Linked DNA regions of Homo sapiens: regions 2, 3 and 4 are each linked to region 1. The links come from fine-mapping of genetic effects on gene expression. A gene starts in region 1. Each other region holds a variant in brackets. All regions are shown on one strand. Distances are from middle to middle.

Region 1 (7,619 bases):
AGAAGAGGTAAGAGACACCGAGACACACACCCAGGGAAGGCCATAAGAAGACAGAGGCAGAGATGGAGTGATGAATCCTCAAGACCAGGAAGGCCAAGCACTGCTGGTAATCAGCAGATGCTGGAGGAGGCAAGAACAGATCCCTCCCTGGAGCCTTCAGGGAGAGCATGGCCCAGCTGACACCTTGATTTCAGGCTTCTAACCTGTGAGAGGATACATTTCTGTTGTTTTAGGCCACCTAGTTTTTGGTACTTTCTTACAGCAGCTGTAATGCAAAAGGAGAGAGAGAGAAGGCTAGTGGGCTCTGCAGGGGTAGTTGTGAGGACTAACTATTTAATCAGGTATAGTCACCAAGTGTATATTTATGGAAGCTTGCTCTGTATCTAGTTTTATAAAAAGAACCAAGAAAGCTCTTTTTCTCCCTGGACTTTGTTTTATCTGTATTGGGATGTGAACATTTCTGCCCAGTTGTCTCCAGATTTCCAGTCTTGGTAGAGTGTGTTGCAAAGTGTCTCCCCACAGTCTCCTCCACTGGAACCCTGTGGGGAAAGGGGGACTTTCATGCAGGGGGCCTTGGCTTATTATCTCAGCAGCTATAGGGGTTGAGCCAACACACTCTGGCTCCTGCCGGGGGCAGGCTCCTGCTGTCTGCTTTCCAGCTGGGTGCCTGCTCTTTGCTCTCTGATTCCCCCTCCTGTTTGGTTCTCTGGCCCCTGCTGGCTGGGTCGCTGCCCCCTGGCATCATCACTCTGAAGCCAGCAGCCCTGCTGGGCCATTCACAGGCATACCCTAGTGGGGGTAAGGGGCAGATGTTATTTCTTTGTCCCCCTCCCAGCAAACACACACACACACACACACACACACACACACACACAATCTCACACTCAATATGTATTAATGTCCTGGGAAGGGGTCCAGGCAGAGAGTGATGGCAGGCTACAGGCTCTGGGGGGATGCAAATGGACCGGACAGTGTGTGTGTACATTGGGGGGAGGCAGTGGTAGTAATGGGGGGTTGTCTTCAGACTGCACTCCTGGGCAATTACATGCCAGCAGCTTCATCCACTACCAGCCGGCATGCAGGCTTTAGACCACCAAGAAGCCTCCCCATATGGCCCCAGCTTGGCCACTGAAAATTCCCAGCCACATTCTCTGGCCGATATGCTGGCACTAGGCCAAGAAAGTTAGCCTGGGGTAGCTGTTCTCTCCCCTAGCACGTGAACACACACACACACACTCACACACCAGTGGGGGGTGGGATGGAGAGTTCCTTTAGAGGCTCATGATTCCCAAAACACCACTCTTGTGTAGGGTTCCTGCCTTACTCATAATCACTTGCCCTTCCCATTTCCCATGTTCCTCTGCAAATCCACCCACCCAAAATACCACCATAGGAAAGAAATATTCCTCTTCTATATTACCTCATCAACTCCTGGCCCAGGGCTCTTTTCTAGGGCTCTACCTGTGAACCCACACATGCACACACACGCAAACACACACACACACACACACTTCTTCCCATCAGATGCTGTAACCTTATCAGAACAAACTTAGCTCCTAACTCTACAAATTCAACTCGCCCCAACCTCCCTGCTTCCTGCTACTCTCTCTTCTTTCTGCCAAATCTCCTTCAAAACCTCTGTTTCTTTTTCTTACCCTTTCTAAAGTCTGGACTGTACATATTGTTGGTAAAACTCTGGGAAAGAAGTAGTTTCCTGAGGTGGTAGAAGAGAGGGTCTCTAAACCCAACTCTGACTCTTTCTCCAGCCCAAGGTGGAAATTTATAAGTCAACAGAATGAATGCACCCCGGCTGAGGCTCCTCCAATTGCAGGGCATCTACTCAGTGTTTTAGGTGCTGTACAGGCACTTACAGTTGACAAATTAGGAAATGGACATAGTTGCAAAGAGTTGCATACCCACTCCAGAAAAAGGACAAAGAGTTGTCTTGGTAATTTTCAGAGAGCAGAGCAGGCAGTGAGGAGACTAGTAGGAGGCAAACCCCTTTCAGAACTGCCTATGGGGGTAGCCAGGAGAGAAGCTGGATGTGGACAGGGGCAGGGCCAGTTTCTAGGCTGCCTGTCTGACCCTCAGTAAAGAAGAGAAGGTGGGGAGAGGGCTGCAGAAGAGCTGGGAGGTGTGACTTCTGCTGGGCCTTCTCTGCCCACTCTCTGCTCCACTCTGCCTAGCCCAGGGCCGTAAGGACACTAGAGAATGGGAAGGAAAAGGGAGGGAACTTAGGTTATGGTTGGGAGGTATTTATTCTCTGATATCCCCAGTTGGGAGAACTCAGCCCTCTTGGCTTAGATCTGAGTTTGGTTTAAAAGGAGAGTATCATCAAGATAAAGAGAAGTACAAAGAAGGAAAGAGCAGAGAGAAACAAGAAAAAGTGGAGAGTGAAAATTAGAGAGAGCCCAGACGAGGTGAAGTGTAGGAGAGACAGCAGATTCCTGGAAAGTAGAGTGGCCCGGCTATTTGTCCAGCCTCCAAACCCACGTGACAGGGACTGTGAAGCAGCCTTGCTCACGGGTTGAGCCGCGCCTCCGCTCAGGGAACCCTGAGCAAATACGCCCTGATCCCCACATAAAGGGCCAATTAACTGCGCCGTCTCCGGGAACAAATCCGCTAACAGGGTGACAAGCCCCTAGACGCTGGCAGGCCCTGTGTTTGCGGAGAGGCCAGCCGGGAGCAAATCAGGGCATTAGGACCGGGCAGGAGCCGCATGGTGGGAGGGTTTCTGGCCCCCTCCGCCCCAGAGTAGGGCCTGGTACCAGGACGTGGGGTTTCTATCCCGATTCAGCCTCTGCTGTGATGGAACCCAGGTGACCGCGGTCAGCAGGGGGCGGAGCAAAGGGCCCCGGAGCCTCGAATCTCACAGGTCAGAGTAGATCAAGCACTCCAATTCCTCCTTAACAGATGGGAAAACTGAGATCCAAAGCGGTGACGTCTTGTACTTGGCAAACGTAGAATTAGAACCCACTTCTGTGTTGGTCATTCCTGAAGGATAGATTTCGGGTGGGAAATACATCCCTTACTTTCTCTCTTATCTGAATACCACCCTGGAGCGAGGAAGGGAGGGGCGTCAAATCTCTTATTATCTTCTTGCTTTTGAAAGGATGTGTCTCTAGCCCGTCTCCCACCTACCCCAGTCCTCAGCCTCAGGGTCTGCTCGGATTTATGTCTTCCCTGGGGGCTCCAGGGCCCTAGTCAGGCACCTGCAGATGAGGTGCTGAAAAGGACAGCTCCCAGGGCGCTGCGTGGCGGTGGGGTGGGGGGTCCATCCGGCCCCACCCCCACTCCCACCTACCCCCTCCCCCACACCTAGTGCTTCCAGCCTTTCTACGTCCCGCCCAGAACTGCTAGGGTTGGAAGGCACCTAAACACCCATAGTTGGAGGCTCACAGCCAGGCGCCTGGACTGAGGAAGGAGGCTTGGAACAAGCCCCCCACCCCTTGACAATGTCTCGGGTTCCCTTGAACAAGCTCTGCCTGAAATATTTCAATTCTTGATTCTGCTTACTCCAGAGTCTGCGACTGTATAGCACCCACCCCTCTGATCTCGACCCCTTTGGGGTCAGAAGCAGTCGCCCCATGAAAGTTGTCTCATCCCAGAACCTGACGGCTGAGCCAGAACTCTGGCACTGACTCTTCAATCAGCAGGGCCTTACCTCAGGTTAGGAATGCCCCGGCCTCTCTCTTTCCCTGATACCCCAAAGCCATCTCCTGTCTAGGAAAGTGAGTTTGTCGAGGTGGGTCTTCAGGTAGAAAGAACTCCAGAAAAGTCAGAAGCAGACCGCGACTGGAAGTGGGAGGTGGGAGTAGGGGCCCATGGTTTTCTTTTCGCCCCCCCCAGGAAGGACGACTGCTATCCGATTTGAACAGATTTGCACTAATTTTGCAGCAATCCCACATGCCTTTACAAAAATAATATTATCTTTGTTTTTGTCCTAGAATCCTTGGTTCCATTTCAGTCTCCTCAAAAACGTAAAACAATTTAATAAAAAATGTCAAAGCAGGGTAATGTAAAAGGATTCAAATAAATGACAGTTGCCTGGGTTTCCCTGGCTTTCAGTCTCCTACAGGAACTCCTAGATTAGGGCGTTTGGAGCAGGACTCCCGGGTCAGGGCGCGCCGCTCCATCCTCTGGCCTCCTGGCTGCAGACCAAAGGACCAGAGGGCAGAGAGGTGGACCTGTCTTGGAATTCTCTGCCTACTCCCAACTCTTGCTGCAAACCACCCCAGTCTCCTGCCCTTCCGTCGCCAAACCCCTAGACTTGGGAGGGAATGGAAACCAGAACTTTGGCAGCAAGGAGCATTGCTTGCGCTTTGCCTCAGTTTCCAAAAGGTTCGGGAAAAGAGAGGACAGATTCCTGTTCTAAAGTTGGGCAGAAGGGCAGAGTCCGACAGAGCCTCGTCCCTCATCTTGGGTGCTTTGAGACAGGGAAAATCTCTCGCCGCGTCCAGAACGGAACGCTGGGCTTGGGGTGCGGGGCGGGGACTCCAACTCGCGCGCTACGCTACTCGTGTCTCCTGCTCGGATAGTGACTGTAGAGGTAAGGGTGGGAGGGTGGAGGGAGGCGGATTAATCCCTTAATTACGCCGTGATCGGCGTGGCACCTGCTTTCCGCCTGCCCAGCTCCCAGGGGACTCCGGCACTAGGGGGTGGAGAGAAGGACGAGGGAAGGAGGAGGGCACGAAGAGGCACCGACCGTACCCAGGCGCACCGGCAGGAGAGCGGCACCGTGGCTGCCGCAGCGCGCAGAGGCTGTGGAGGGGCTTACGGCTCCCAGCCCACGGGTCTCAGACCCAGGGGCTGGGCCCCCAGCCCCCAGTCCCGATCCCAGCTGGGTCGAGCCATGCTGCGCTACCTGCTGAAAACGCTGCTGCAGATGAACTTGTTCGCGGACTCTCTGGCCGGGGACATCTCCAACTCCAGCGAGCTGCTCTTGGGCTTCAACTCCTCGCTGGCGGCGCTCAACCACACCCTGCTGCCTCCCGGCGATCCCTCTCTCAACGGTGAGACCCTGCCTCTTGGGGATATGGGATCCTGGGATGGGGATGAGGTGAGAGGGCGGCGTGGAAGGGAAGGAGAAGCGCTCCTGTCCCGAGGTCCGGGATTGAGTGGCGCCTCCCAGCGCCTCCCTGGGTCGTGGGGTCTAAGGGATAATTTGGAGCTTCGAGCACATGAGTGGGGGTACCCGCGGGAGGTCGAGGGCTTGGGAGAAGATGGCTACTGAGTCTTTTTACACCTCCTTCCCTTCCCCTACAACGCCCACCCCAGGTGAGAAGAACCGTTGCTGGTAACGGGCAGGGAAGTCCGAGCTAAGAAAGGCCCGGGCCCAGCGCAGGGAGGGCAGAGGAGGGGGCACAGTCTCCCGCCGGCCTCGGCCAAGCCAGGTCACTCGGTGACCCACCCAGGCAGCTGGTCTTCGGAACCCCGAAGTTTCCCAAGAACTCACTTAGGACCAGAGGAAGCCAAAATGCTGGATGTGTTTGCTACGGAGGGGATAGGGGCGGCGATCATTTTAAGGAAACTTAGAAGTTTGTCTTTCAGCGGCGGGACTCTCAGCCGGCCCACCCCGGCAGAGCTGTGGCGGGCGGGCGGAGCTGGCGGCGAGGTCGTTACCGCTAATTACGGTGATTAATAAATGACTGGGACAGCGCGCTCTCCCCTAGCGCCGCGGGGAAGCTGCGGGAGCCGGCCGCCGCCAGCCTGCGGAGAGGCCGGAGCGCGCCCCCTGCCTGCCGCATCGGGAACCCCCGCTTTACCGGGCGCTTTCGCGTGTGGTTCCCTCCAGGTGCACGCGGTCCCCATCCCTCTGCCTCGACCCACTCGAGTCTAGTGACGAGCACTGTGCTGGGGACTCGAAGGTGGAGAGAAAGGAGACCCTGGCAATATGTGTGTGTTCATGTGTGGGGCACATCAGGTGCTGAGGGAGGAGCCCCAGAGCCTCATTAGCATGGCCATTAGCTATTCATTAGGCTGCAGTCGAAGCATCTCCTGAGACCGGGAAGGGTAGAGGGGGAAATTCCAGGGAAAGGGCGCCTGCAGCTGTGTCTACAGGAATTAGGGGGAAAAGGCCGACCAGAAGGGTGTGGTCCGTATAGAAGGATTGGGGAGAAAGACGATGGGGGAGGAGCCCGATTCTCCAACCTCTTGACCCTCCTAGATTTCCAGGAGGTTAAGCACAGATCCCTTCTCGCTGGCACCCCGCAGAGTCCCGCTTCTGCTCACCTAGCGCGTTTACAGAGTGTTTTCACCATACTTTGTCTCATCTAAGCTCGAAACTTAGTGAGGTATGCAAGGAAGGTGTTGACAGACACATTTTGCCGCCGAGAAAACGCTTTATAGAGTGAATGGTGCCCTAATCGTCACAAAAGCAGCATGAAGCAAAACCTAGCGATAACAGATCAGTCCATTTCCATTACACCTGAGGGCTATACCAAGGGGAAAAAAGAATATTGGGGCCTGGTAGAATTTGATTCAGGTAGAGACTGTAGGAGCCAAGATAAGGTGCATATGCTGGGAACACAAGCCCTTAAATAATGGCAGAGTAGTGACGTTTATCCCCCAAGGGCTTTACATACATTATGGTCTTAGAGCAACCCTATCACTGCTCTCACATCACAAAGAAAGAAACTGAGACTGAGAGAAGTTAAATAATTTGCCCAAGTTCTTACAGCTAGGAAGCGTCAAAGTCTGAGATTCCAGCCCTGGTTGGTTCAACAGCAACACTTGCTCTCAATCACTCCAGTGTTGCTCACCACGGGGTGTTCCAAAATTGGGAATGGGAGGAGATGGAGGAGAAGAGAAGGGTGAAAAGCAGAGATTTCCATTTGGAAGGGAGGAGATGGAGAAAATTACTCTCCCAAGTGGGACAGAAATCGATCTTCTTGACTCCAGGCAATTAAAATAAACTCAGAACAGCGCCAGCACGGGTCAGCCTGTCCAGCTTTGTCTACAACAGAACTTCTAAGAGGGGGGGCAGGAAATGAAACCCAATCTCACAGGCGGGCTGGAAGCGGGAGGTTCCTGCAGATTTTGGAACAGGGTAGGAAGGGGGGAACAGGGGGAGGGGGCAGGGGGCAGAACAGATGCTTGAAGTGGTCCCTGGTTATTTTACAGCAGGTTATTAAAGGCTGCAGTGGCACCTACTGGCCGCCACGGGTTACAAATCCACTTTTGTTGGCTGGACTAGGGGCTGAGAGTGCCGGAGTATAACAGGCTCCGGGATCCTAACCGTGCTGCAGAAGGTGAAACAGGCCAAAGTCTGCAGGCCAAGTGACAGGTAGGACAGAATATGTGGATGAACTGATCGGAGTGAACAGGGGAAGTAGAGGAACATCAATCAGTAGAATAATCTATTGGAAACTATGCACCTGTCAGGAAAAGGAGCCTTACTAACATTTCTACTGCTATTTGCGTTCAATTCCTGTGACTTCACAGGACCCTTGAAATGAAGCGTGATTATCCGGGGTGTCAGTAAGAAGGGCCCTGTGCCGATTCATAGAATCCAGGTTGACAAGCCCTTCTAGGCCCGGCCCTGTCACTCCCGTCTTGCCTTTCATAAGGGATCCCAAGCCAGTCCACATTCCCAATTTCACTGAGCCAGGACCTTGCAG
Region 2 (7,619 bases), 28 kb after region 1:
CTTGAAAGATGGGGTAGACTGTCAGGTTGAGCTGAGTGGGTAGGACAAAAACAGGGATCGACACACAATGTTGGCTGTGACAGGAGACAGTCAGCTAATAGGAAGAGGAACTTCAGAGTGGGAAAAGGTATTGGTCTATCCCAGGGACGCAATGCCCTGCCCATACTTTTTGTTGAATGAAAGAGTGAATGCATGGGTGATATCAGAAATGTGGATATAAACACACAGTGAGAAGAGTCACCTAGAAGATGGAAGCTGTCATCTGGCCCACATGGGCAGTGGAGAGACAGGGCTCTGAGTGAACTTTCACAACAGAGAAGCTGGAAACTAAAGAGACAGCCCTAACTATGTGCAATGACCTGTGAGCATGCTTCTTGGTCAGACCAGAATGCAAAAGGGATCTAAGTTTAAGCCAGAGAGGAATAGGGTAATACAGGAGAGAGATTTTTCCAGGAGCAGGAACCTGAAGAACATCAGACAAAGGAGAAAAGAAACAGCCTTTAGATTAGTGTCCCATGACCAGAAGCCCAGCTAGGAAAGAGTTTCCCCTCTTGGTGGACCAGGGACCAGGCAGGACCTTCAGGGTAGAGCTATCTAGTCAGTCACATATCAGAGATCTGGGGGCCACTACGGGCAGCTTCAGAGAAGGGAAGTGAGCCAGGCTTTGGCATTGACCAAGACCCCATTTATGTACTAGTGGCCAGACCTTCTGATCCTTTAGGATGAAAACTCATCAATGACTAGACTCCCTCCGTCAAAGTTTCCTTTGGTACTTTGGCTGTTTGGTTTTTATTGATTTTCTATAGCTTTCATATGACCCAGGTAATCTGGGGAGCCAACTTCAGGGTTGGTGCACCAACTCTGCTATCATCAGCTATGTCTTGTCTGGTGCCTGGCTTCTTGACTAAGCTCAGAAATATGAGCACAAGTTGGTTGGCTGGTTTGAGTGGAAAGGGAAAGAAAACAGCCAGGCCTGGAAAAGGCCACTTTTATCCTAGCCTGTTTCACTTCCTCTAAGGGACTCTGGTAACAAAAGCCCTCCTCCTATGTTGCTTGGAGTTACTTGGACTTTAGTTTCAATTCTAATTGAATAAACTGGACAAGAAAAATGTTATCAAGGTGAAAGGTTGAAACTCATTGGTCAAATTGCAATAAATATTTGTTTGAATAAAATAATGAATGAATGAGGATATTCAGTGCATATATCTGGCAAACTGAGCAGAACTAAGAACCTGCTATGATGGATGAGAGACAGGAGACTGTAATTGTGAGGATATCAGCACTGGAGAAGAAACCCCAACTAAGGCCAAATAATAAGAAAAAGGAACAAGCAGGTCAAGGGGAGTGGGTGGTACTGGGAGAGCCTGCCAGTTTTAGAAGAGGAAGAAACAGCAGTAGAATCAACTCCATGGGTCTGGAGAAGACCATAGCATGATCTTGTTGCTGCTGAGGTCCTGGGAGGTAGAGGTAGAATATCTAGTGTCTACCAGCCAAGGAGTCGCTGCAGTTGACCTATCCTGGGGGCAGTGGTGAGATGGGGCTGGAGCGAGGAGAAACAGGGAGTGAAGTAAGGACCTAAACCACAGGCTAGGAAGCCTCATCTCAGAATTGGAACCCTTCTTAAGAACTGGCTGTAGAAAACCACTCACCTCTTTCCAGTAGCATTACTGTTCTAAGAGGGGCTATCCATTCCATTAAAGTTGGTGTAGTTCTCCCTGGGAAGGCTGTTTTTTAAATGAGACTATTCCACCTTTTTTTTAGCTGGTGTTTCGTTACCACCAAGGATTTATAATGCAATAGCTCTGAGGCAAAGCTGGTAAGAATGCCAGCTTCGCTGATATTTACAGTCATAAAATTCTGGATATTGAACAAGCTGTTAATTATCTTAATCCATCTTTGTCTTATTAAAAGTTGGATTAAATCCACTTAAAAAAAAGACTTGGCTGTAGAACATTTGTTAGGTCTTACTAATTAGTACAGAAGACTCAAGAAGACAGCAGGTAGATTGCAGGCCAATGTTCTGCAGGCCAGAAATAGGAAAAAATACTCAAAGAGAGAATAGGATTTCCTGAGGGAGCTCCAGAGAGACTCAGAATCACTTCAGAGGCAGACTATCCTGCCTTCAGATTTGAGTCCTGCAGCTAATTACTTGCAGAATTTTGAACCAGTAACTCAATCATTCTGACCCTCTTCCTGTCTGTAAAATTAGAGAAATAGTAGCTAGCCAATCTATTGTGAGGATTAAATGAAATAACAAACATAAGTAAAGCACCTAGTATATAGCAATTGATAAAAAATGGAGGCTATAATTATTTTTCTCTGAAAAGTCTAAGAATGCAGCTGGGAGTCAGGAGATAAACCTGTCCAGAAAGGAAATACCCATTCCTCTCTGAGAAGTGAGTTGGGAGTCGGTGCCCAAGCACACCTGTACATAGTACACCAGGAGATGAGCTCGTGGGAGCCTGAGGCTTTGTGCCAGCACTGGTCACATTCCCCCAGGCTCTAGCATTACTTGTTTGCTAGTCAACACTTTCGTTAGACAGGCCCTGAGCCCTTAGAAGTCAGGGGCTGTGTCTGACGTCTCTTGTGTTCCCCATGTTTGGCATGCAGTGGTGCTTATTAAACGTTTGCTGAGTTGAATTGAGTGCAGAATTAGGGCTCACTGCTGGTGTAGCCAAACTGAAACAAGAGCACAGTGCAAAAAGCTGAGGCTATTGCACCCCTAGCTGAGTGCTCTGGTGGTAGGAGAAAGAGGTCTTGTGTCCACCTGGAGAGGAGAATGGAAGGAGGGTGTGGAGGTTGCACGCCCCTCCAGGCTTTGAGGCCTTGTTCCCATCACATTCCCATTCCTGGGCCCGCCTACCACCAGCTCAGTCTATGTCTATTCTCCCCCTCCTTACCCTGCTTCTTTTTGGCCTTCCAAGCCTCTGCAGGGGCCAGAGACAAGCGGGGAGAAGAGAGTCCCCTGCGGCTGCAGAGGCTGTCTGAGCTGGAACAGGGGCTGGAGAGCTGGGCCAGCTGGGGTGGGAGGCGCCTGACAGCTGGGACCTGGGGACTTGGCCTGGCTGGGGTACTGGAGGGCAGCTCAGCGATGAGGGAGCCATAAAAAGTGCTGGTGTCTGGAAGCAGGGGCACGCCGGGGCTTCGGGAGTCCCAGGAGAGCACTGTGACATAAATGACAGGAGGAATTATGGTGAGCATGTCCTGCTTTCCATCCCTGAGATCACTGCCCCCAGCTAGGCCCTTGCCCCCACTGAGCATGCTCACAGGAGCGACGACAGTCTAGTGGGTCCCGGGCATCCGCCCCCAGCCGACTGCTGAGGCTGCTGCTGCTGCTCAGGTCCCGAGAGCCAGAGGTGGAACGCCAAGTGTCTGCCAACCACTGGGAGTCACTGTGATCCATCCTGGGGCAGTGGAGGGAGGGGGTGAGGCCAGGAGAAACAGGGAGAAGTGAGAACCTTTTTGGCCAAGACTTCCTGTTCAGAGGCAGCAGAAGAGGGCAAGGAGATGGTGGCTTTATCCTTACTACTGCTTTTCAGCTTTTCACAGACTCCTTAAGATCTCTGACCTGGTCCCCTAAACCCAGCACCCCTTTCTTATTCCTGGATGAGGGGAAATCCGAGTCACCCAGAGCTGGGAGGTAGTAATGACAGACAGCTATGTATGCTGAGGTAAAAAGAAGACCTGAAGACAAATCTGGTTTGACAATCTCTATCTGTCACAGCTTAGCTTGGGTAAGTACATCTGTTGCACTTGGGTAAGTACATCCTCTCTAAGCCCCAGTTTTCTCATCTGTAAAATGATGGCAATAGGGCCTTCCACACTCAAGACTGATGGTCTGGGTTTATATGAGGAAATGTGAGATCACTCAGCTGGCAGAGCAGGAGCTTGCTCCATGGATATTGGCCTCTGGCTGCCTGAGTGATCCTTCAAGAACAGGGATCTGAGCAAGGAGCTTCTCTGCGTAAGACCTTCAATGGCCCCTCATTTACCATGATAGAGCCCAGGTACCTAGCATGGCTAAGAGGACCTTCCTTGGTCTGGCTTCCAGCTCCCTAACTATAGCCTTTGCTCTGACCCATCTCACACCCTATACCCGAGCCAGAACAAATGGTTTGTCTTTCCCTGTGGACATAGCAGGCTATTACTTGCTGCTTCATTGCTCTTCTCTCCATCCCCTTCTTACTGTCAGGGTAATGTGGAATCTTCTTTCTCCTATGTTTTTCCACATTGACCCCCTCCATGT[G/A]TCTTGTACCTGCTTCTGCGTGGCCAATACAGGATTGCACTCATATCCCCTCATGCCTGTCTCTGCCTACACTGAGAGATTCTGGCAGGTGGAGGCTATTCCAAAGGAAAGAATGAACCAAAGATCAGAAGGAATCTCCCTCAAGGACAGAGCAGGAGATCCTAGGGAAGCCACAGAAAGCTTAAGGCAGAGCAGACAAAGCCAGGAGGTAGCTGGAAGAAAGAAGCCAGTGAGCTCAGAAAACTCAAAACACAACACCAGCCAGCTTGGACCCCTGCTCTGGGCTGAGGACCTGACAGTGAAATGGCAGCTCTAGGCCTGGATTTGCTGGCACATAGTAGGTGCTCAGTAACTTCTGTGGATAGATGCAGACCTGGAGTGGGAAGCCTCCCAGAGGAGATCTAGCGAAATAAAGAGCCAAGAAGGCAGACAGAGAGATGAGGCGGTTACTTAGTACAAAACTCAGACAACGGGAGCAAGAAGGATGTGTTCTCTATCAGCATGATGTCCCAGAACTGCAGACTTGTTCTGGCAGCCGAATATACCGGAAGCAGAAGGGCCCATGGGCAGATCCTGTTTTTGAGAACAGTGAGGAAGAATCTATGATGTAGGCACTGAACACCCTCTGCTGGAGCTGCGGGTGGACTATGATGTAGGCACAATGGCTCAGTGAGAGAATTACTGAGTGCAAAGGCACTACTTGGTAGACCATGGGTGCACGCATAAGATGAGACATTTGAGGTGGTCGTCTCATGCTGATTATTCTCCACCTAGCGGGTGAGGCAGCAGGAGAGGTGGGGTGACAAGAGTCCTGGATTGGGGGTTTAGAAGGTTTTATGAGTTTCAGTTTACTAGTCTGTCAAGTGGTGTGATAGGAATATTAATGACAGAGAAATGAACTATCAGTTGGAGTTACAGGAGAGATTCATGTACGACAGTCCCAAACTCCCTGGCAGGTAGACTAGTACTCCATTCTTCTCTGTTGCAGCTCCACTGTCCCTTGCCACCCTCCCTTACTTCAGACCTCCCCTTTCACCTCTCACCTGTGTTTTAGGATGGCATCCTCACTGGTATATCTGTACAGACCTGGGAGAAGGCAGGAGGAAAGCTAAATCCAGAGGCTGGATCACCTGGTCAGAGATCCAAAGCCCCTGCACCATTCTGGCTGGATGCTGAGGAGGCCTGTATACATGTGGGTCCCCCTCAGACTCTCACCTGGGCCCAGGTGCACCCTAGCTCGGCGCCGGCGGTGGATACACACGGCGGTGCCCAGAAGCAGCAGCCAGAGTGCAACACCGCAGGTGGCAATGACCTCAGGCCGCTTCAAGGTAGCCCTCAGCTGCTCCAGGGTCCAGGGACCATGCTCACTGGGTTCTTGGGTGGCTCGCTCCATGGCCTGCTCTGTATGGGATGCAGAGCTCAGAGGGAGAGGGAGTCGAGGCATTGAGGGCCTGGCAGGCAAGGGGGAAGAGCTGGAAGTGTGAGGCGGGAGCAGGGAGAGAGGAAGGCGGGATGCAGGCTGAAGGGTAGGGTGGGTCTGTGGGCACTGCCCTCACCTAAAAGGAGGCAGACAGGTCTACTGGGCTCCCCAGCTCCAGCACCAGTGACTGCAGCCACTTGCACGCAGTAGGAGCCTGGCATATGGGTGGCGATTTCCAGCTGGGTCTGCTCACCAACTACAGTCCAGTTGGCTGGTGGCAGTGATGTGTTGCCCAGGCTCCAGACCTGAGGCACAAGCAGAGGTGAACAGCTTCCCCAGGCACCATCCCAGAAGCCAAGCCCTTTATCTGCAGATCAGACTCCAGGGGTGTGGTTATTCTGCCCTGCCATCCACTTGGGGAATGCACCCAATTTCCTATTCCCCTCCTATTCTCCCTACCAAGTGAGAGATACCTCTCTCTAGATCAACAGTAGAAGGGCACAAGCAAGCTGCTAAAACACATGTAACATAGCAATTCTCAAACAACAGCGTGCTTCCAAGTCACCAGGGGGGCCTGCTATAGTACAGTTTGCCAGGCCCATCTCTGAGTTTCTGATTTATGAGGCCTGGGAAAGGATCTGAGGGTTTGTATTCCTAACAAGGTCCTGGGTGAGGCTGATGTTGCTGCTCTAGAAGTCAAACTTTGAGCCCCACTCCCTGACTCACAGCCTGGTTTGATCTACTCTGTTTCTTATTCCTGTGGCCTTTGCCCCACTTTCCATGTCTGTAAATTGGGGATAATACCCCAGGGTGGACTGTGAGGTAAAACGGGATCATGGAGGTCAAGTGCTTGGCAGGGTCTGGAAGCCAGTGGGTCCTTGCTCAGCAAAAGCAGGTTTCCTTTGCTTCTCTGCCCAGGTACCTTTCTCAGTGCCCAGAGCAAGGGTATGCAGAACTCCAGAGAAAAGAGATGTCCTGGCAGCAGTAGGAAGGGCTATGACAGCTAGTGGGGGTACCTGGTAGCCACGGATGATGCCATTGTGGTTTTCAGCAGGTGGTGGGACCCAGCTCACAAAGACAGTGCCATTGCCAGGCTTTAGAGTCACTTCCTGAGGTGGGGCACTGGGCACTGGAGGGGTGGAAGAGAGACTATGAGGGGCTCTGAGGGAGAGGACTCTAGGGAAAGGAGCTGGGCTGGGGGACACAGCGTCAGAACCCTACTGAAGAGACAAGAAGCCTCTTGAAGCTCTGCTGGCCTGGCCAGGGCAGAAGGGAGTCCCAGGGTAGGACCCATAATCTCCCCTCAAGACTGAAGCAGAACAGTCCAGGGGCCCCCAAATAAGAAGGAGCCAGAGGGGATATTGTTGGCTTCTGAAGGGATCAGGCCCTGACCTTTTTCCGGCAGCCTCAGGAGCAGCACGTTGCTGTCAGGGCCTCGAGCCCGGCCAGAGGATGGTCTCACTTTGAACTCGTAGTCTTGGCCCCAGTGGAGGCCTCCAAGCTCTGCGCTCTGCCAGCCGGCCAGCAGCTCCTCTGCCCACGGAGCTCCCTGGCCTCCCGGGGCAGTCTGGGTCCTGAACAAGGCCGTGTAAGATTGGGCAGGCGCAGCAGGGCCACTGACCTGGGAAGGAGTTTCGAGGAAGGGCGGGGGGTCAGAGAGCTCAGGAACGCCCTTTCTTGAGCTCTGGATCGGCTTTTACCCTTAGCACCTGGTCCTCACCTTCCAGCTGAGCCACACCGCCGGTCTAGGCTTGGGGCCCTCTGCAGGATCCGGGTTCAGCAGTGTCACATTTTCCAGCTGAATTCGCACAGCCAGAAGCTCCACAGGCTCCGTGTAGTCCTGGGGCTCTGTGGGGAGGATAGGGCTGGGCTGGGGCTTATAGGCCAGAGTGACAGAACTGAGGCGTGGAACATCCCTCAGCCAGGGAGGAACCCCAGGGAACCCAAACTCCC
Region 3 (7,619 bases), 52 kb after region 1:
CATTTTAACAGTAGACACCTGGCAAGGCTGTGGATGCACCTTTCATTGCAGGCCAGCCACTCGCATGATAAAAGCTTGTGTCTGGTTTTCCACAGCTTCATCTTTTCTCTTCAGGAGATAAGACTCATACTCAGGGCAATCTTAGAAGATTTGAGGCTCAGTATCTGCTTCTGAAGCCAGGAGTTAGAATCTCTGAGTTCACAATTTTCTTTCATCACTTTGTCCAGTGAACTTAGGAGCAACCAACCAACTTCATTATGTTCCTTGGTTCTCCACATATGGTCAAAGTTATTATGTACAGAGTCACTAAACTCCTTGCCTCTCATGAGCAGTGAATCAGGAGTGTCAAATGCACTTATTTTGCATAACTCTGTAAACAGCTCATGCCAGGGACTATTAGTGTTCTCCATACTATTAGAAGTAGAGTCCTTAGCATTTTGGGGTCTAATCATATTTAGCAGCCAACTCCAGAAACCCCAAAACCAACAAAAGAACTCCATCCTTAATATTTGTTGGTACCAAAATGTGTATTACTCAGGGTTCTCTAGAAAGACAGAACTAATATATATATTATATGTATATAATATATATATCATATATATAATATATAATATATATAATATATATAATATACATCATATATATAATATATATTATATATATTATATATTTCATATATATAATATATATAATCTATAAAATATATAATATATAATATATAAAATATATAATATATAATATATAAAATATATTATATATATTATATATAAAATATAAAATATATAATATATAAAATATATATTATATATAATATCTAAAATATATATTATATATAATATCTAAAATATATATTATATATAATTTATAATATAAAATATATAAAATATAGATTATATATAATATATATAATATAAAATATATATAATATATAATATAATATATATTTTATATTATATATAATATGTAAAATATATATTATATTATATATTATATAAAATATATATTTTATAATATATATTTTATATATAATATATAATATATAAAATACATATTATGTATTATATATCAAATATATATTATATATTTGATATATAATATATATTAGATATATAATATATAATACATATATGGGAATTTATTAAGGAGTATTAATTCACACAATCACAAGGTCCCAAAATAGGCCATTTGCAAGCTGAGGAGCAAGGAAGCCAGTTTGAGTCCCAAAGCTGAAGAACTTGGAGTCTGATGTTGGAGGGCAGGAAGCATACAGCATGGGAGAAAGATGTAGGCTGGGAGGCTAAGCCAGTCTAGTCTATTCACGTTCTTCTGCCTGGTTTTTGTTCTGGCCACGCTGGCAGTTGATAAGATTGTGCCCACTCAGAGTAAGGGTGGGTCTGCCTTTTCCAGTCCACTGGCTCAAATGTTAATCTCTTTTGGCCACACCCTCACAGAAACAGTCAGGAATAATACTTTACATCCTTCAATTCAATCAAGTTGACAGTATTAACCATCACAGTGACCTTCTTTGTCTTTTTTTATAGTTTTTGTCTTGAAATCTATTTTGTCTGATATTAGTATAGCTACTCCTGCTCTTTTTTGGTTTCTATTTGCATGGAATATTTTTTCCATCTCTTTATTTTCAGCCTATATGTGTCTTTGTAGATGAAGTATGTTTCTTGCAGGCAACGAATTGTTGGATCTTATTTTGTAACCTATTCAGCCACTCAACATCTTTTGTTTGGAGAGTTTAGTTTATTTACATTCAATGTTATCATTGTTAAGTAAGGACTTACTTCTGCCATTTTGTTACTTTTTTTTCTGGTTGTTTCATGGTCTTCTTTCTTCTTTTCTTCTTTCCTGTCTTCCTTTTAGTGAAGGTGATTTTCTCTGATGACATGTTTTAATTTATTGCTTTTTATATTTCGTGTTATCTGTTGTAAGTTTCCAAATATGAAGTTACGATGAGGCTTGCAAATAATATCTTATAACCTGTTGTTTTAAACTGATGACAACTTAACAGTGATTGCATAAACAAACTAACAAGTAAAGAGAAAACTGATAAAAACTCTACACTTTAACATCATGCCCCTACTTTTAACTTTTTGTTGTTTCTACTTATATCTTATTGTACTATGTCTTGAAAAGTTGTAATTATTATTTTTGATCAGTTCATCTTTTAGTCTTCCCACTCAAGATATGAGTAGCTTACACACCACAATTACAGTGTTTTGATATTCTGTCTTTTTGTGTACTTACTATTACTAGTGAGTTTTGTGCCTTCGGATAATTTCTTATTTTTTATTAAGGTGCTTTTCTTTCAGATTAAAGAACTCCCTTTAGCTTTCTCATAGGATAGGTCTGGTGTTGATGAAATCTCTCAGCTTTTGTTTGTCTGGGAAAGTCTTGAATTCTCCTTCATGTTTGAATAATATTTTCACCAGACATACTATTCTGCAATAAAAGTTCTTTTTCCTTTGGCACTTTCAATATATTATGTCACTCTTTCCTGGCCTGCAAGGCTTCCACTGAGAAGTCTGCTGCTAGGCATATTGAAGCTCCACTATATGTTATTTGTTTCTTTTCTCTTCCTACTTTTAGAATCCTTTCTTTATTATTGACCTTTGGGAGTTTGATTATTGAATGTCTTGAGTTAATGTTATTTGGGTCAAATCTGCTCAGTAACCTTCTTGCACTTGAATATTGATATCTTTCTCTTGGTTTGGGAAGTTTTCTGTTATTATCCCTTTGAATAAACTTTCTACCCTCATCTCTCGATTTTCTCTTGAAGGCCCAAAACTCTTAGATTTGCCCTTTTGAAGTTATTTTCTTGATATCGTAGGCATACTTTCATTCTCTTCTATTCTTCTTCCTTTTGTCTCCTATAACTGTGTATTTTCAAATAGCCTGTCTTCAAACTCACTAATTCTTTCTTCTGCTTGATTAATTCCACTATTAACAGATTCTGATGTGTTCTTCAGTATTTCACTTGCAGTTTTTAACTCCAGAATTTCTACTGGATTCTTTTAAATTATTTCAATCTCTTTGTTAAATTTATCTGATAGGATTCTGAATTCCTCTCTGTGTTCTCTTGAATTTCTTTGAGTTTCCTCAAAACAGCCATTTTGAATTATCTGTCTGAAAGGTCACACATCTGTGTCTCTCTGGGATTAGTCACCGGTGACTTATTTAGTTCATTTGGTGAGGTCATATTTCCTGAATGGTCTTGATGCTTGTGGATGTTCATTGGAGTCTGGGTTTGTTTGCACCCTTCCTTCCTGGGAAGGCTTTCTAGGTATTCAAAGGAACTTGGGTGTTGTGATTTAGTTTTTGGTGACTGCAGCTGTATCTGCATTAGGGGGCACCCCAAGTCCAGTAACACTGTGGCTCCTGCAGACTTGAAGAGATACCACCCTATGGTCTTAGATAAGATCTAGAAGAATCCTCTGGATTATCAGACATAGACTCTTATTCTCTTCCTTTTCTTTCTCCAAAACAAGCAGTCTCTCTCTCCTCTCCTCTCCTCTCCTCTCCTCTTCTCTCTCCCTTTCTCTCTCTCTCTCCTTCTCTCTCTGTTTGTGCTGAGCTGCCTGGAGCTGGAAGAAGGGTGACACAAGTATCCCTGTGGCCACCATCACTGAGACTGTGCTGCGTCAGACCTGAAGCCAGCACAGCACCAGGTGTCACCAAAGGCCTGTGGTAACCACTGTCTGGCTACCAGCTATGTTCGCTCAAGGCCCTAAGGCTCTAGAGTCAGCAGGTGGCAATGCCAGCCAGGCTTGTATCCATTACTTCAGGGTGCCAAGTTTCCACCAGTCCTGGGCAGGTCCAGAGATGTCACCTGGGAGCCAGGGCCTGGGGTAAGAAACTTTAGGAATCTACCTGGTGCTCTATTTTACTCCAGCTGAGCTGGCACCCAAGCCCAAGGCAATGTCTTTCCCACTCTTCCCTCTCCTTTCCTCAAGCAGAGGTGTCTCTTCCCTTGGTCACCACTGCCCCAGGCCCATGGTCAATACTGCCTGGCTACTGCTGATGTTCATTCATGGATCAAGGGCTCTTGAGTCAGCTTATGAATGCTGCTAAGCATAGGACTCTCCTTTCTAGGCAGTGGGCTCCACTATGGCCACTAGGGCAGGTCCAGAAATGCCATACAAGAGCTAAACCCTGGAATTGGGGACCCCAAGAGCCCACTTGGTTCTCTACCGCACTGAGGCCACACCGGTACCTAAGCTGCAAGACAAAGTCCCCTTTATCCTTCCTTCAACTTTTCTCAAGCAGAAGGAGCCCCTTCCCATAGCCACCACAGCTGGAAAGGTGCTTGGTGACATCTGAAGCCAACATGTCTCTTAGTCTCACCCAAGGCCAATGGCAAGTACTGCTTGGGTTCTATTGCAAATTATTGAGGGCCCTTGGGCTCTAGAGAGAGCAGGTGATGAATGCTGCCAGGACTGGGTCATTCCCTTCAAACCAATGGGTTCCCTTCTGGCCCAGGGTGTCTAGAAATGTTGTCTGGGAGCTAGGGCCTGAAATGGGGGACTCAGGACTCTGTCTTATGCCCTATCCTACTGTGGCTGAGCTTGTCTTATGCCCTGTCCTACTGTGGCTGAGCTGATATCCAAGTTGCAATACACAGTCCTGTTTACTCTTCCTGCTCCTCTCCTCCAACCACAGAAAGGAGTCTTTTTCAAAGCTGCAAGCTGTGATGCCTGGTGTTGGCAGAGGGATGATGCAAGCACTCCCTTGGCTGCACCAGCTGGTGTCTCACTAGATCATATGCTCAAGTCCACTGGCTTCAAGCCCAGCACAGCATCAGGAATCCCCCCTAGAATTGCAGTCCTTGTGTCCTAGACAGACTTTTAAAAGTTTATTTAGGACCCCAGAGCACTTTAACCCATGGTCGTGAGTCTTTTTGGAATTCAGGTTCCAACCACTGGGATGTGTAATTCCTCTCTGGCGAGGGCTGGTCTAAATGCTCCTTCTGTGGGTGCTGGCTGAGTTCTGCCTGGTGTTGTTTCTCCCTGTGACAGGGCAGCACTGCGTTCCAATGCAAAGCCCCACAATGACTGCACTCTCCCTCCCGCAAGTGCAGAGATTCTCTCTCTGTTCCATGCGGCAGCTGC[C/T]GGGTGATGAGGGAGGGGTGGTGTCAGCAATTCAAGACTGTCTTTCTTACCTTCTTCAGTGCCTCTTTCAGTGATATGAAGTTAAAACCAGGTATTGTGATCACTCATTGGATGTTTGGTTGTTATGAGGGTGCTTTTTTTGTGTGGACAGTTGTTCAATCTGGTGTTTTTGCAGGAAGACAATCAGTGAAGGCTTCTATTCAGCCATCTTGCTTCACCTCCCTTGGTAATCTCATATTTAATGAGTGCTAAGTACTTTGAGCTCACTGTGCTTTTAAATTTTGTTTTACTTCTGACTGCTTAAAAATTTCCCCCATCTCTGGCAGGGAAGTGGCTCATGCCTGTAATCCCAGCACTTTGGGAGGCCAAGGTGGGCGGATCATGAGGTCAGGAGTTTGAGATCAGCCTGGCCAACATAGTGAAACCCTGTCTCTACCAAAAATACAAAAATTAGCTGGACATGGTGGCACGTGCTTGTAGTCCCAGCTACTCGGGAGGCTGAGGCAGGAGAATCACTTGAACCCAGGAGGCAGAGGTTGTAGTGAGCCTAGACTGCGCCATTGCACTCCAGCCTGGGTGACAAGAATGAGACTCTGTCTGAAAAAAAAAAAAAAATTCCCCCATCTCTTGAAGCCAGCAATGCAAAACAAATATCATTTAAGCAAGACCTAGTTGTTTTGAAACAGGAAGACCTCTCAAACATCTAGTCTCAAGTATTTAGCAGAGAAGTTCCACATATCACTTTTTACCTGTTGCAATCTGGCTTTAACCCCTACTACATGTCTGAAACTACTTATGCCAAGTCACTCAATGTTTTCATTGTTGCCAAATTTAACATGCACTTTTAACTTCATTTCATATGTGAGCCCCCTGCCCTTGTAGTCCCGAATGCTCCCTTTTTCTTGAAACTCTCTTGTTCTTTTGATTGTGTGATATAGTTATCTCCTATATATTCTCCTATCTTGCTGGCTGTGCCTTTTAAGCCTTCTTGGTGAAGTCCTTTTAAATTTTCTACACATACTGATGCCTCAGAAATCTATCTGCAGCTTTCTTCACCTTCTACTTTGTATACTTTCCTGAAATAATTTCATCAACTGCTAGGCTCAGTACCCTGAATTCCCCCCCATCGTGTCTTGCACTTCCAAGCTTTTATACATGCTTCTCCCTCTGCTTGGAGTGTGTCCTCTCATACTTTTAAAAACCAGATTAACTAACAAGTCTTTCTAAGAAAGACTCAACTCAGGTCTGTTCTCCTCCAAGATGCCTTTGCTGACATCTAATCTACATGCTCCCAGAGCACCTTGTATCTACTTCTGCCATTGCATTTTACACACTATATTGTAATCTGTTTACTGATCTGTCTTCCTGACATAGTTATGCTGTATCAGCAGTGTCTAGCACAGGGCCTAGTCCATGGTAGGTAAACAAATGTTTGTCGAATAAATAAAAGAACACCTGAATAAGTAAATGAATGAACGGGTAAGTGATTTTGGAACGGACAATTTGGGGTTTGGAAAGAGGGTAAAGGAGGTGAAAGGAGAAGAAGAGAAATGACTGGTATATTTAAGCAGCTTGTTTTGTTACCCTTGTTTATGTGGAATAAAGTTGTCATTTCATTTCATCAAAAGTTTATTGAGCATCCAGTATGTGCTAGGCACTCTGCTGGATGCTAGTAATACAAAGATGAAGATGAAAACAACACAAAAACAAACCCCACTTCCTTACTTACCCCTCCCCACCCCCAATTTAAGGCAGATTTGGCTTAAGCCTGGCAAGCTGGCCCCTCAGGGATTCAGCACCAGGGTATGGCATGTTCTCATCTCACCCTAACCTTCACCTGTGCATCTCAAGGCTGACCAGCAGGTACTCCTTATCCAAGTCCTGCTGCCTCTTCCACCTTCTTGAGAAACTTTTCCCCTACATGCATTATCTCATTATGGATGAGGCACCTGGGAAGTTTAGGGGAGCTGCGAAGGCACACCTGCTCAAATGAGCCTGGGGAAGTGCCGAGGGACAGGGAGCTGAGACAGGCATGCTGTGGGGTTCAGGGCAGAGGGGGCAAACTAGAAATGTCAGTGCCTTTGGGGCTGAGACAAAACTTGACCTGGTGTGGAGGTGATGGGTAACTGGGGCCTTGGAATTGCTCCATGGGTTGATGGCGAATCAGAGCTGGAGTTTAGGAGACTAGGGATGCAAGGACCCTTGGAGGCATTAAGGAGGAGGGAATGGAATACACAGAGGGCCTCCTTCTCTTTCAGCTTTTTAATTGCCCTCTCTCCTCACACAGTAGATTACTGCCACTCCTATGAACTGTTCAATAGGCGGTGGCATGGGCATGTCCTGGCTACACAGCGGCCCAGCCTCTTTATTTTGATGTTAGTGTGATTAGGGAGTCTGCCCTTTTTCTGTGCCCTGGGACCTGAGCATGTGGGAGCAGGGCAGATGGGTGGCAGGAGGCCAGGGGTTGGATCATGTTCCCCCCAAATGCTGGGAAGCAATAAG
Region 4 (7,619 bases), 190 kb after region 1:
ATGTTTTTCATATTTATCTACAGTTTGCAGAATTGTTAAACCAAGGAGAACTTTAGGCTAAAATCAGGTCACTTTGGAGGGGTGTCCTCTAGACAATACATTATTTTCCACTGAAACATAAATTTTTTTCTACATCCTCTCCCATTTCGATCAAAATAGTCTGAAAGAAAGACTATGCTTGATCACAAAATAAGGCCGGTCTCATTGGATTGGATCTAACTATAAGTACGGTAAGCATTTTAATTTACCACAAAAGTCTCCTTCAGTTTACATTGCTGGAAGTTTTCATAAGGAATTTCAGATTTAACTTTTAAAATACTTGTTAACTGGACTGTGTATTTGTTCATAGTGCATCTGTTTTCAACGTGATTGGATTGTTAAATTTTGAGGTGTGTGTGTGTGTGTGTGTGTGTGTGTGTGTGTGTGTGCGTGCCTTAAATTTCATTCTGTGCAGTAGACGAGGACTTGATAAGACAATAACATGAAAGAAACTGAAGTGTTTTCTGGCTTTTCTAGAGATATCTGGGCATGTCCATTTCTCTCTAGCTGAAACTCTGTTATCATAAACTAGGAAGTACTTGTTTCAATTCATTACTAAGAAGGGGGAGAAAAGGTTTAGTAACAGTGATCAGAAAATACTGGACAAGCTGAACATGGTGGCTCTCACCTGTCATCCCAAGGCTGAGGGGGGAGGATGACTTGAGGCCAGGGGTAGAGACCAGCCTGGGCAACATAGCGAGGCCCCTATCTCTAAAAAGGCAAAAATAAAAAAAAAAATTAATTGGGCATGATGGTACATTCCTGTAGTTCCAGCTACCCAGGAGGCTGAGATGAGAGGATCACTTGAGCCCAGGACTTCGAGGCTGCAGTGAGCTATGATAGCACCACTGCCCTCCAGCCTAGGTGGCAGAGAAAGATCCTGTCTCTAAAACAAATTATTTTAATTAAAAAAAAGGAAAGAAAATAGAAATTACTAAGGCATGCTTTGGCATACAGTGAACATTTGGATGTTAATTTTGAAGAAAGAAACATTTGGGCTTGAGAATGAGTTTCTAAGAAGGTAGAGTGGATCAGCACTCTTTTCCCAGAAATTTCCATCTTGATCTTGATTCCTGACTCTTGTAGCCTGTTCTTCGTATATTTTACAATAAGGAATGCCAACAGTGTACTAGGAGCCAGGGCTCTCAGGCTAGTGTTACAGAGTTGTAGGGAAATTCTAGGATGAAGTTTTTGCTGGGACAAAGCAGATGAAAGAGTTGAGTTTTTCCAGATCTGGAGCTTACCTGTTGGGGATGCTGTAGACATCTAGAGGCAGCAGGGATATCTTCAGTCTTTATTGTGTAGTGCTGGTTTGTTTATTCAGACCTTCTTTAATCTTACTAATAAAACTCTTCACTTGAAGACCTTTCAGTCCTTGCCTGTGAAAGGCATGATTGTTCTTCTTGAAGTCACATGCTTTTGATTTCTAAACCCATTTCCATTTTCATTTGTTCAACCTGTTCTCCCTGTTTCATTCCTCTTGCTTCACGATGTTACAATAAGAATGCATTCCTAGTTGTAGACCTAAGGAGCAGTGTAAGGCAGGGAGGCATTCCCACAACTTCCTTGAGCCTATCTTAGGCTTAATTAAGCCTATCATAGGCTTAATTGGTCACAGGGACAGAGGTTAGTCCCAAATGATAAGAAGGAATCTGTTTCTACAAATGGAGTGGCCCTTGGGGAGAGCTTCTGTCTCATCTTTCCACCAGCATCACTGTGTGAACCAGGCATGTCTGTTCTCTGCAAGTTAAATTTGTTTGTCTGAGTAGTAGGGAGGAGTATTATCTCCTAGCCGTCTAGAGGTGCCGATGAAGCTGTTCGATAAAAGCAGAGTTACACGTTTAAAAAAATAGCTCAACATCGCTGATCACTAAAAAAATGCAAATCAAAACCACAATGAGATACCATCTCATGCCAGTCAGAATGGCTATTATTAAAATGTCAAAAAACAACAGATGCTGGCAAGATTGCAGAGAAAAAAAGAACGCTTTTGCACTGCTGATGGGAGTATAAATTAGTTCAACCATTGTGGAAGACAGTATGGCAATTCCTCAAAGACCTACAGACAGAAATACCATTTGACCCAGCAATCCCATTACTAGGTATATACCCAAAGGAATATAAATCATTCTATTATAAAGATACATGCACAGGTATGTTCATTGTAGCACTATTCACAATAGCAAAGGCATGAAATCAACCCAAATGCCCATCAATGATAGACTGGATAAAGAAAATTTGGTACATACGCACTATGGAATACTATGCAGCCATAAAAAGGAACAAGATCATGTCCTTTGCAGGAACATGGATGGAGCTGGAGGCCATTATCCTCAGCAAACTAATGCAGGAACAGAAACCCAAACACTGCATGTTCTCACTTACAAGTGGGAGCTGAATGATGAGAACACAGGGACACATGGCAAGAACAACACACACTGGGGCCTGTCAGAGGCGGGGTGGGGGCTGGGGGTGGCACTGGCTGGGTGTGGAGGGAGAACACCAGGGGGAATAGCTGGGCTTAATCCTTAGGTGAGGGGATGATCTGTACAGCAAACCACCATGGCACACATTTACCTATGTAACAACCTTGCACATCCTTCACATGTACCCCTGAGCTTAAAAGTTGAAGAAAAAAAACGAGTATCGTAACTTGGAATCCAAGGCACAGTACTGAAATCTGTATTGCTAGTGAGGTACTTGAGTTAATATGGGCAGCTGACCATGCTGCTCCATAGCATATTCTCCAAAGGAAAGATTTCTACTTAAAAAGTAAATTTCTCCCATCCTGTTTCTGGAATTAGAAAACTGAGAACTACTAAAAGGAAATTAAAGTTGACAGAGCTTTTATATATATAAGACTTTTATAAACTAAGGATAGATTCACGGGGAGTTACAAAAACAGTTCAGAGGCGTCCTGGTACCTCTTACCTAGTTTTCCCCAGTGATTACATTTGACATAACCGTAGTACAGTATGTGTGTGTCTGCTATTTTATCACATGCATTGATTTGCGTAAACACCAATGCAAACAAAATACAGAACTATTCTGTCACCACAAAGACCTCCCTTGTGTTACCCCTATAAAGTTACACCC[CT/C]CTCAACCACCACCTTCCTTAACTCCAGTCCATCTCTAATCCCTTTTCCATTTTTATGATTTTGTCATGTTGAGATTGTTATATAAATGAAATCATACAGTATGTGACCTTTTGAGATTGATTTTTTTTCACTTGGCATAATGCCATTATGTCAATAGTTCATTTCTTTTTATTGTTGAGTAGTATTTCATGGTATGAATGTACCACAATTTGTTTAACTTTATTGAGGGGCATATTGGTTGTTTCCAGTTTTTTGTTATTATAGATAAAGCTGCTATGGACAATTCATGTACAGGTTTTTGTATGGATGGAAATTTTCAGTTATCTGGGATAAAAGCCCAGGAGCACAATAAGTGTATGGTAAGTGTATTTTAGTTTCTTAGGAAAGTGACAGCATGTATTTGGGTAATGTTTTTTATCTACTCTGCCAGGGGTGGCGGGGGGTGAAAGTCCAGGTTTCCTATTTGACCTCTGTTAACATCCCTGGTTCGGGGAGGCAGGGCAGGGCACCTCATTACTGCTTGAAAGGGTGGGAGTTCTGGCTCTCCACTAGGCCTCCATTGATATCGCCCTGTATGGGCTCCTTACTGCTCCCCATGTGACCTCCATGACACCTTGGTGGTTGGGGTGGGGCGCTCTTTACCATTGGAAGGTGGTGAAAGTCCTGCTTTCCCACTTGGAGTTCTCTGACACCAGCCAGGCGGTGGGCGGGGGGGCACCCCTCATTACAGCCAGGTGCAAGTGGAAGTCTAGGTTCCCCACTGGCCTTTGCTGATAAGGTGGGGTGGGGCTGCAGTGTTTTCTATGAGGTTTAGTTGGAGCAGGGTGGTTATTGCCACGCTACCCCTTCCTTGGTCCTGTGGCTAGACAGAGCCAGCATTTCTGAGAGCTTTGGTGTTCTGTCTGTGTCATTGGTGCTTCTGGATTTGCTGGCTTCTTCAGCACCCAGTCCGGGATATATGAAGCCAAGAGCAAACCCAGATAACTCACCACTGTCTTTCCTTAGATCTCAAGGTCCCTCGCTGATCTGTCTTCTCTCCACTTTTCAGAGTTTTCTTATGCTTGCTTTATATATAATGTCAATGGTTTTTAACGGTACCTAGCAAGAAGAATAGAGAGAAGTGTATCTCTTCTATCTTCATCCAGAACTGGAAGTCTGACAAAGCCCTGTTAAATGGCCATTTCTCCTCTGAAAACATAAATCTGATCCTGTCTTCACCCTTAAAGCTGTCTTATAGCACCCAACTGTCTAAAGAATACAGTTCCAACCTGTTATTGTTGACATTGAAGGTTCTTCACTATCTCACCACATGTAATAAGTCATATCTTCTGCAGCTCCCCACCTTGCACATGTACTCACCAGCTACAAAGAATGTCTTATGCACCATTTCTTCAATGTACCATGCTTTTTCATGGTTCCTTATTTTGCACATGCAATTTTCCGGTTCCACCTTTCTCCTCTTCACTTGGTATGCACTAAGCTGTTCTTCAAATCTAGTTCTTATGTTGTCTACAGTAAGCCTTCTGAGACTCTCCTGGAGTTATTTGATCAGTGCCACCATATCAGCATGAACATTTTCTTGTTTATATAACCTATTTCTTGTTTGAGTTGATCTCTTCTGCCAAGCTTTTGAAGTGGGATTATCTCTATACATCTCTGTCCCCTTTGACTGTAAATTCTTTGGGATTAGGGACTGTGTCTGTCTGTTTTTTTTTTTTTTTTTTTTTTTTGAGACGGAGTCTTGCTCTGTCGCCCAGGCTGGAGTGCAGTGGCGCGATCTTGGCTCACTGCAAGCTCCACCCTCTGGGTTCACGCCATTCTCCTGCCTCAGCCTCCCGAGTAGCTGGGACTACAGTCACCCGCCACCACACCTTGCTAATTTTTTTTTTATACTTTTTTTTTTAGTAGAGATGGGGTTTCACCGTGTTAGCCAGGATGGTCTCGATCGACCTGGTGATCTGCCCACCTTAGCCTCCCAAAGTGCTGGGATTACAGGTGTGAGCCACCGTGCCTGGCCTGTCTTTTTCATTAATGTATCCTCAGCACATAGCACTGTGCTTGGCACATAGTTGTCACTTAACAAATGTTTGTTTGTTTGTTTATTTATTTATTGAGACGGAGTCTTGCTGTGTCTCCCAGGCTGGAGTGCAGTGGCACGATCTCGGCTCACTGAAACCTCTGCCTCCTGGGTTCAAGCGATTCTGCTGCCTCAGCCTCCTGAGTAGCTGGGATTACAGGCGTGTGCCAGCATGTCTGGCTAATTTTTGTATTTTTAGAAGAGGAGGGTTTCATCTTGTTGGCCATGCTGGTTTTGAACTCCTGACCTCAGGTGATCCTCCCGCCTTGGCCTCCCAAAGTGCTGGGATTACAGGCAACAAATATTTATTAAGCAAGTAAATGAATGGTTACTTTCAGATACTAGAACAACTAAACATTGTCCCCAGCTGTGTGACCAGGCTGAGACTACCTCACTTTTGTCATTACCATATATTCCTTTTAATTTTTCCTCTAAACAAGGTGACTTTGGGAAATTTTCATAATTTAACCATTTCTTCATCCTTCTCCTCTCTTCCTAAGGACTACTGGCTGTCAGGCTGTCTTTGTATATACCTGTTGTCACTACTGGTATCCTAAGGAGGTTGACCATTTGAAAGCAGGGCTGCCCTGTTGGTTGACTGATAGGTCTCCAAAGCCCACTCTTCAGGCCATTATGAACCATCAATCTAGTCTTCAGTACATTGAAACCCTACTTTTGGCCAGTTATATAAGGGCTGGGATGTTCTTTGCTAAGCATTCCAGAAGTTTGACTTCTATTGAGAAATAAGATATTTTTGAATACCTTTGGTCACCTTGCTTATCTATCTTTTGACTGTTAGCTGGGAAGAATTTAGTAGTAATTCTTAGTGAGATTTCAGCATCCAACATATTTAAGACAATAACTTCTTTCATTTTTATGACACTCTACTCAAGCCATACATACATCCTTGTGAACCCCAAATTATTCAGCACGTATTACCACAAAGCTTACAATAACTCAGTGGGTTAAGTTGTATATATATACACACATACACAGATACACACACAAGCACATTATATTAAGGATTTTGCAGTCAAAAATATATTTTGTTATACCCATTGATCCTTTTTAAGAATTTTGATCCTTTAACCCCTATATTTTGTTCTCATTTATGACAGTCATTGGTTTCTGTCAGCTGCAGTCAATATCTGACCCTAATACCATATATATTAGCTCCTGCACACATAATTGCTCCATTTGCAAAACCTATTTAATATGGCCAGGCACTGTTGTACTTTTTGTATGCACATATGTTTTGATTCTTACAGCACTCTGTAAGGTGGGTGCTGTTACACACATTTTACAGAGGAGGGAACTGAGGCTTAGTGAAGTAGTAAGTATCTTGACCAGGCTTGGTTCTGACTCCAAGCCAATGTTCTTTTTACTGCACCACTCCGCCTCTCCATCAAAAGGCCTACTATGAAATTGAATATTTAAAAGATTGAATAATTACAATTTATCCTAATATCCCAGTTCTTACCCCCTTGATCAAGACTGGTCTTGATTGTATTACCAAAAAATATGCTTTTCTCTGTTTAGTAAGACAGGAGTGGAAGGAGGCAAATGTGTTCAAAAAATGATGCTTGTGGATGTGTTAAAATTTTGGAGTTCTGTTACCTAGTGGCTTATTCTCATGTCATTTGTCCTCAAAGACTTTCTTAAGCATTCAGATCCTTCTGTCCCTTTGAAGAAAACAGGGAAGACACTTGTTATCGTGTCTTAAAGGGCATAAAACACCAACTGGCTACCCCAACAGTCCTGTGGGTGGTCATGGAACTTACTAGCAGTAGGGACTGGTATTTGATGGGTAAAATGGCTTCTTTCTCACAAGTGTCTCATACTGAACCATAGGAAGCATTTTTGACAGAGTATAAGGCTATCCATATAAGAACTGAGGATCTTTTCCTTTAGCATTTGATTGAGTAGCTCCTTCCCTCCCTCTTTATTTCCTTCAGATCCTCTCCACATTCTGCAGGGTTTGAGGAGGTAGTGTGTGGGAGGGGGGCCAGATAATAACAAGAAGGTGAGTCGAGAGTGGTGAGGTTGTGTAGGTGAGTGAAGGGACTCCCTGAGGCACAATATCCCTCTTTGTCACTCCCCCAAGCAGCAGGAAGCACAGAGATCATCCAGCTCACCAACAGGAGCGAGCAAGAAAGAGTTCCAACATTGGTGGGAGTGTTCCCACTGCCACCCTGGCCCCTGAACAGGGATACGTGGCTGGAATTCACAGGAAGTAACTGTGACAAGGCAAAGTCTGTTTCAGTACCGGCCCTGCTCCCAGCTACTTGGTGCACTGTGAACAATAGCCGTACTACCATGAGGGCATATTCCTAATGCCTTTCTTAGAGTCCCAGCCTCAGATAGGCATGGTCCCCTGTGAGGCAGGAACACAGCTTCCTGACAAA

The links. PIP is the estimated chance that this variant, and not a neighbour inherited with it, causes the effect.
Region 2: its variant is the best candidate, but not a certain one, in a credible set for the expression of ROBO3 in subcutaneous fat (FUSION, PIP 0.62).
Region 3: its variant is the best candidate, but not a certain one, in a credible set for the expression of ROBO3 in tibial nerve (GTEx, PIP 0.58).
Region 4: its variant is the best candidate, but not a certain one, in a credible set for the expression of ROBO3 in monocytes (TOPMed, PIP 0.51).

Annotation. Positions count from the first base shown.
Region 1 is chr11:124,860,726-124,868,344 of GRCh38, forward strand. ROBO3 (roundabout guidance receptor 3) reads left to right here and starts at 4,707. Exons shown (of 28, transcript NM_022370.4): 1 at 4,707-5,012. The coding sequence starts at 4,853. RefSeq lists enhancers at 2,182-2,683, 5,023-5,699.
Region 2 is chr11:124,888,399-124,896,017 of GRCh38, forward strand. ROBO4 (roundabout guidance receptor 4) reads right to left here. Exons shown (of 18, transcript NM_019055.6): 5 at 7,387-7,514; 6 at 7,059-7,287; 7 at 6,683-6,795; 8 at 5,803-5,971; 9 at 5,462-5,647; 10 at 5,290-5,332; 11 at 3,268-3,404; 12 at 2,901-3,164. LOC107984406 (a long non-coding RNA gene) reads left to right here and starts at 3,401. Exons shown (of 2, transcript XR_001748429.3): 1 at 3,401-3,734. The variant G/A (reference allele first, on the strand shown) is at 4,247.
Region 3 is chr11:124,912,516-124,920,134 of GRCh38, forward strand. HEPACAM (hepatic and glial cell adhesion molecule) reads right to left here. Exons shown (of 7, transcript NM_152722.5): 7 at 6,690-7,619. HEPN1 (hepatocellular carcinoma, down-regulated 1) reads left to right here and starts at 6,735. Exons shown (of 1, transcript NM_001037558.4): 1 at 6,735-7,619. The coding sequence starts at 7,236. The coding sequence ends at 7,502. All of the region lies in intron 1 of LOC107984406 (a long non-coding RNA gene), which reads left to right. The variant C/T (reference allele first, on the strand shown) is at 5,118.
Region 4 is chr11:125,053,995-125,061,613 of GRCh38, forward strand. No RefSeq gene overlaps it. Among named protein-coding and RNA genes, the nearest start is that of SLC37A2, 5.5 kb to the right of the region's middle. The variant CT/C (reference allele first, on the strand shown) is at 3,136.